Homo sapiens: one gene and its partner. The protein of the gene in region 1 interacts with the protein of each later gene in a pairwise test. Each region holds a gene or a part of one and is shown on either strand. Other genes may lie near its edges.

Region 1 (3,500 bases):
CTCGGCTGCTGATCTTTTCCAAAGTCCTAGTAATTTCATTATGGAGTTTGTCCAAAAATCCCTAGAAATTCCATGGAATTTGCAGATAGAAGAACTCACAAACATATTTTTTCAAAAATATTAAAAATGGGTTACATCTCAATCCATTCTACAAATAATCAACTACATGTGCAAAAGAAGACAGCTTGAAATTTTCAATAGCACAAAATATCTGTGATGAGAAATATTTTAACCACACTTAGAAGAGTTTTAGAATAAAAATGCACCTGGCAGTGTTAGTCAATTCATTTGTCATTATACATACCATAAAATTTATGTGACTATAATTAGCATTATATAACATTCACAATCAAAGTAAGGGAATAACGTGAGTTTCCTATAGCACGATTCAAAGGTGACTGAAATATTCCAGTTGGAAATAGATCCCTAAGCCTATAGCTCTAGCCTGGGACACATAACTTTTCAGTCTAGCTTTGCTTCTTTGTGACATTCTCCAAAGTCCTTGTTTCTGGCAGGACAGCAAGCCTGCGGAGGCTGTAAGTTCTAGACCTTGCTGGTCTGGTGTTCTTTCCTCCTTTAAGATTCAGAGAGGAAAGGATGATGAAATGTTTCTCTCTAATATATGTATTATCTATATATTATACATATATATCTTATATATATACATATATATAGCTTTTATTAATATGTAAGTTAGCTTTCTTTAGTTGGTTTAAATGTAAGGTCAGTTGAAATGTAACACGGTACATTCAATTAGTAAGTTCCTTAAAGGCAAAAATTGTGTCTTTTTATTCTTTCATGTTCTCTTATAACAGGTGTTCCACAGATGAGTAAATGTACATTGATTCACGTAAAGTAATTCATATACCTTGGTCTCCTTTAGAGCAGATTCAATTCCACTTCTGTGCTGGTGCATTTGGTCAACATGGATTCTCCAATCCTACAGGCATAGAGCACATAGAAATAATGTAAAAAATACTACATTTCCATCTTTCCCTACTTCTTGTGAAGTTGTAACCTTTAATTACTTTGGTTCCTGCCCTATTTCAGGTGGGATAGCCCTATTTATAGCTTGCAATCAGATTATAAAGAAATATGTGTAGAGCACTTTAGGATAAAAGGTTCTAAATAAATGTAAATTATTTCACGTGTTCACAGAGTGATGTCTGACAATTTAAATTATTCCTGCACTGCTGGTGGTTAATATTTATGACTACCCATTAAAATGAAAAAAAAATTCTAATTACTAGAAAAGAACTACTTGTTTAAGCAGTAACAATTATGTTTGCCAAAAGCAATTCTGAACTCAAATATCATATATCAAAGATTAGTTTGTCCCTTGGAAATGAAAATGGGGCCCTCATCTTCATGAAGCCTTTTGAGTCCCTTTCTTAATAAAGGAAGTTTATAATGATTACTGGAGTTCATGTATTTTAAAATATCATCTATTACTACTAGACTGATCTGAATTAGTGTGCAAATTTGAAATCTACATCAACATTTTAATTTCCTACAAAATATATTAAAAATATTTCAGTTTACTACAAAGTAATAATTTTTTATTTTATTTTACTTTAAGTTCTGGGATACATGTGCAGAATGTGCAAGTTTGTTACATAGGTATACTATGTGCCCTGGTGGTTTACTGCACCCATCAACCTGTCATCTAGGTTTTAAGCCCTGCATGCATTAGGTATTTGTCCTACTGCTCTCCCTCCCCATCCCCCATCCCCCAACAGGCCTGGGTGTGTGATGTTCCCTTCCCTGTGTTCATGTGTTCTCATTGTTCAACTCCCACTTATGAGTGAGAACATGCGGTGTTTGGTTTTCTGTTCCTGTGTTAGTCTGCTGAGAATGATGGCTCCCAGCTTCATCCATGTCCCTGCAAAGGACATGAATTCATTCTTTTTTATGGCTGCATGGTATTCCACAGTGTATATGTGCCATACTTTCTTTATTCAGTCTATCATTGATGGGGATTTGGATTGGTTCCAAGTCTTTGCTATTGTAAATAGTGCTGCAATAAACATATGTGTGCATGTGTCTTTACAGTAAAATGACTTAAAAACCTTTGGGTATACACCCAGTAATGGGATTGCTGGGTCAAATGGTATTTCTGATTCTAGATCCTTGAAGAATTGCCACATTGTCTTCCACAATGGTTGAACTAATTTACACTCCCACCAACAGTGTAAAAGTGTTCCTATTCTCCACATCCTCACTAGCAGCTGTTGTTTCCAGACTTTTTTGATCACCACTCTAACTGGCATGAGATGGTATCTCATTGTGGTTTTGATTTGCATTGTTCTAATTAACAGTGGTGATGAGCTTTTTATCATATGTTTTTTGGCCACATAAATGTCTTCTTCTGAGAAGCGTCTGTTCATATCCTTTGCCCACTTTTTGATGGGTTTTTTTTTTCTTGTAATTTGTCTAAGTTCCTTTAGATTCTGGATACTAGACTTTTGTCAGATGGATAGATTGCAAAAATTTTCTCCCATTCTCTAGGCTGCCTGTTCACTTGGATGATAGTTTCTTTTGCTGTGCAGAAGCTCTTTAGTTTAATTAGAGGCCATTTGTCAATTTTGACTTTTGTTGCCATTGCTTTTGGTGTTTTAGTCATGAAGTCTTTGCCCATGCCTATATCCTGAATGGTATTGCCTAGGTTTTCCTCTCAGGTTTTTATGGTTTTAGGTTTTACATTTAAGTCTTTAGTCCATCTTGAGCTAATTTTTGTATAAGGTGTAAGGAAGGGGTACAGTTTCTGTTTTCTGTATATGGCTAGCCAGTTTTATCCCTGATGAACATCAATGTGAAAACCCTCAATAAAATACTGGCAAACCAAATCCAGCAGCACATCAAAAAGCTTATCCACCATGATCAAGTCAGTTTCAGCCCCAGGATGCAGGCTGGTTCAACATACACAAATCAATAAATGTAATCCATCACATAAACAGAACCAGTGACAAAAACCACATGATTATCCCAATAGATGCAGAAAAGGCCTTTGATAAAGTTCAACACTCCTTCATGCTAAAAACTCTCAATAAACTTGGTATTGATGGAACATATCTCAAAATAATAAGAGCTATTTATGACAAACCCATAGCCAATATCATACTGAATGGGCAAAAGCTGGAAGCATTCCCTTTGAAAACCGGAAAAAGACAAGCATGCCCTCTCACCCCACTCCTATTCAACATAGTATTGGAAGTTCTAGCCTGGGCAATCAGGCAATAGAAAGAAATAAAGGGTATTCAAATAGGAACTGAGGAAGTCAAATTGTCTCTGTTTGCAGATAACATAATTGCATATTTAGAAAACCCCTATGTCTCGGCCCCAAAACTCCTTAAGCTAATAAGCAACTTCAGCAAAGTCTCAGGATACAAAATCAATGTGCAAAAATCACAAGCATTCCTATATGCCAATAATAGACAAGTAGAGAGCTAAATCATGAGTGAACTTCTATTCACAATTGCTACAAATAAAATAAAATATCT
Region 2 (3,500 bases), on another chromosome or scaffold:
GGTGGTAATTTAGCCAGGAGGTGGAAGACATCTCTCAGCTCTGCCTCTTACTAGTTGTGTGATCTTGGCAAGTTACCCAACCTCTTTGTACCTCAGTTTTCTCATCTGTAAAATGGGGGAAATAATGGTATCTACTTCAGAAGGTTTTTTTGATGACTAAATTGAGTTGAGAAATTTAAATTGCTTAGAAGCATACTATTAAGAGAGTAGTATCCATTTTAAAAAATTAGGTGTTGGCCACTTTCAATTTAAGTGGATTGAGATGAGAACTAGATTAGAGATCTATCAGGGAGGGAACACTTCAGCCTTCTCAGTCTCAGTTGACTCAGAGTAAATGATCCAAGAAGTAGGAGATTATAGTAGGAGAGGATTACAAAAAGGGGCTGTGGAAGGTTGTATTTTTCAGGATGGTCACAAGATCTGCCATCCTACATTGTGATGTTTATGCCCCTCCCATAGGAAGTAGGTTCTGTGTTCACTTCTTGAATCTGTACAGGCCTATGACTATAGAAGTGATGCTATGTAGTGATTTGCAAGGTTAGGTAACCTCTTGGACTCTAGCAGCCATGCCAAGAGAAAGCCCATGCAGCCCTTTGAAAGAACCAAGGCCCTTTGCCCTTGGCTCTGGCTGAACTCCCAGCTAACAGTAAACACCAACTTGCCATCTTGGAAGACTATCTTCTAGCCAAGTTGAGCAGCCCCAGCTTATTTCATGTGGAGCAGAGACCAGGTTTCCCTGCTGAGCCCTCCTCCAATCAGATTTGTGAACAGTATGATTATTGTTATTTTAGGCCACTAACTATTTGAGTGGTTGTTAGGCAGCAATAGATAACTGTAACAGAGGCCGATCAATTTCTTACCTGCACCAAGATCTAATAGCCTTCTGCTGGTCTTAGTGGAGACAGTGGTAGAGGTAGAGGTTGATGCTTAAGAGTAATAGAGTTCCATTTAAGTATTTTATGCTTTGGAGTTCTCCAGTCCAAGCAACTTGGAAGTGAACTTTTGGAATAAGCAAGTCATTAAATTGAGGACAGTATTATAGACTGCACATGTGTGTAATTAATCTAAAATACTGAGTCCCTGGTGTTCCCAGGAAATTAGATAGTTGAGGTGTGTGTGTGCCCACATGTGTGAGAGAGATTTGAAAGAGTGATTGATTGCCTTGTTCTCTTAAAAGTGGATTGCAATTTCATGTAACACCGTGCAAATAAACATAACCTACAAATTAAACGAAAGTTCTAGTTGAGTGATAAATAATTTAAAAGTTTGATTGTCAATAGTTTATGTATATATATATTTTTAAAACTTAGCAAACTTTTCTGATGTTACTTCCTTGAAGCCGAAATTTGAAAATGAGAAAATATAGTTATTTACATATCTTTGCTTATTCAAGTTATAATAAACGAAAGAAGCAAATGATTCTTTCACTTGTTTAATTTCATTTCCAAGGTGTCTATTAAATGCCTGTAAGAATATTTAACGTGTGTATTTGGCAATACACTTAATTTGATTTGAAATGCTAATGGCAGATTTTATTAAATATTTAAAGTAATTTCACAGTCTATAAATGTTAAAGGCACTATAATAGAGTGGGAAAAATATCTGGGTTAGAATCCTGGTTTAGTACCTTGATAAGACTTAAATTTCATTTCCTCAGTTTCTTTATTTATAAAAATGAGATGAAAGAGCTGGGCTGTGATGATATTTAAAGAACATTCTTGCATTACGAATTTTAAATCTAATTATATGATTCTGCTGAGACTAGTGTAACAGGAATTGTAACATTTGTTACCTTTCCCTTTTGGACATAGACATAATATATATAACTTTACTGTTCGAAATGAGATATATTCTATCCTGGAAAAATATTTTGCTTAAGAGAATCTAAAATATTTTGTAAGATTCTAAACTACCATCGTTTAAATAGTCTTCAAAACAATTTTGATAACATGATTAATTGGCTAATTTCATAGTTTAAAGGGCTTCAAGATTGAATGTTAACATTGACTAATTTTAAAAAGTAAAATTATTTATTTTGTAGTGTTTGTGCAAGTAGTTTTCAAAATACTTTTTCAAAGTTTGCTTTAGTTATATTAGTGTCTTAATGAGCTTTATTTTTCTACCTTTTCATACTACCTTTGAAATCCATTTTGCTAGCCTGAGACAAAATATTTTGTGGTGCTTTTTTAAAAACTCAGTATTCAATAAATATAACTTATTTATTAATATACAGAAAACACGTAAAGAATCTCACTGAAAAATCAAAGAAAATGGGGTTAGAAAGTAGAGGCCGAATATTATAAAATTCTTTTAGTTCTTTGTAGTGCCAGAATTGTATTAGGCTCATATTTGGTTTCTGTTAGAATCTTTGATTGATAGTACCATGTAATGCCTGTTCTTTATTTCTGGGTTGTGGGGTGGTGGTCCTGCCTTTTTGGTTTTGGATGTATGGATCAAGAGCATGACTTTCAAGACCCTCTGCAGGGGTTTCAGCCATGGCCCCAACTAGCTAGTGTTTTGGTATGCTCGGCATTGTTCTGTTGACTACAGCTGGAAAGCAAGAGAAATGTATGACACAGCATCCCCTTGCTTTCAATTTAAGTATGGAGAAAAGAGTGAAACTTATGAAAATGATTCTAAATCAATAAATGACAAAATGACAATTAGTAATGTTCTGTGTTGGGATTTGAATTTTTAAGCTTCATAGGGGTTTAAGAGTGGAGAAATTAATGGAGACCATGTAAGGAAGGAACCCTTCAAAGAAGAAACGGGAATAGAGCCAGGCTTTGAATAATGGTATAGCAGTGTTTGAATTGTTGGAGGAGAAAGGCCATACTTGGTGGGGTGAGTTACCTGGCCACAGGTTAGGAAGCAGGAGTAGCATGGGCTTGAAAAGAAGACTGGAATAGTCTGACGGAAGTGTGGCTGTTTGTTTTGAGGTACAGAGAAATTTGGGTAGGTGGTACAAGATAAGAACCCTAAAGGGTAGATATAAGAGTGTGAACTTGGCTGCATGTGGTGACTCACACCTGTAATCCGAGCATTTCCAGAGACTGAGGCGGGCAGATCACTTGAGGCCAGCAGTTAGAGACTAGCCTGGCCAACATGGCAAAACCCCATCTCTACTAAAAATATAAAAATTAGCCGGATGTGATGGCGCACACTTGTAATACCAGCTACTCAGGAGGCTGAGACATGAGACTTGCTTGAACCCAGGAGGCGGAGCCGAGATTGTACCACTGCATTGCAGACTGGGTGACAGAGTGAGACTGTATCTCAAAAAAAAAAAAAGAAAAGTGTGTGTGAATTTGATAGTGTAGTAGGAATTATATAGGGAAGTTTCTCACTAAAAGGAGGTAGTGTTTTAATGATTTGTTAGACAGTGGTATCCATAATAAATTTAAGGAAAATACATGATAGGCAGTACTTTTGAACCGATGGGTTAGTTGGTTTAACAAGATACAGAAATATCTCTCTGAAACGATCTGAGACTTACTTTA

Evidence for each region.
Region 2: the proteins of IFT57 (region 1) and EXOC5 interact in binary tests that used the Homo sapiens proteins (3 or more experiments, as listed by UniProt).

What each region holds. Positions count from the first base shown.
Region 1 is NC_000003.12:108,166,925-108,170,424, forward strand, and holds part of IFT57 (intraflagellar transport protein 57 homolog), read right to left. Parts: intron 941-3,500; coding exon 869-940; intron 62-868; coding exon 1-61. UniProt on the Homo sapiens protein: Required for the formation of cilia. Plays an indirect role in sonic hedgehog signaling, cilia being required for all activity of the hedgehog pathway.
Region 2 is NC_000014.9:57,258,906-57,262,405, reverse strand, and holds part of EXOC5 (exocyst complex component 5), read left to right. Parts: intron 1-3,500. UniProt on the Homo sapiens protein: Component of the exocyst complex involved in the docking of exocytic vesicles with fusion sites on the plasma membrane.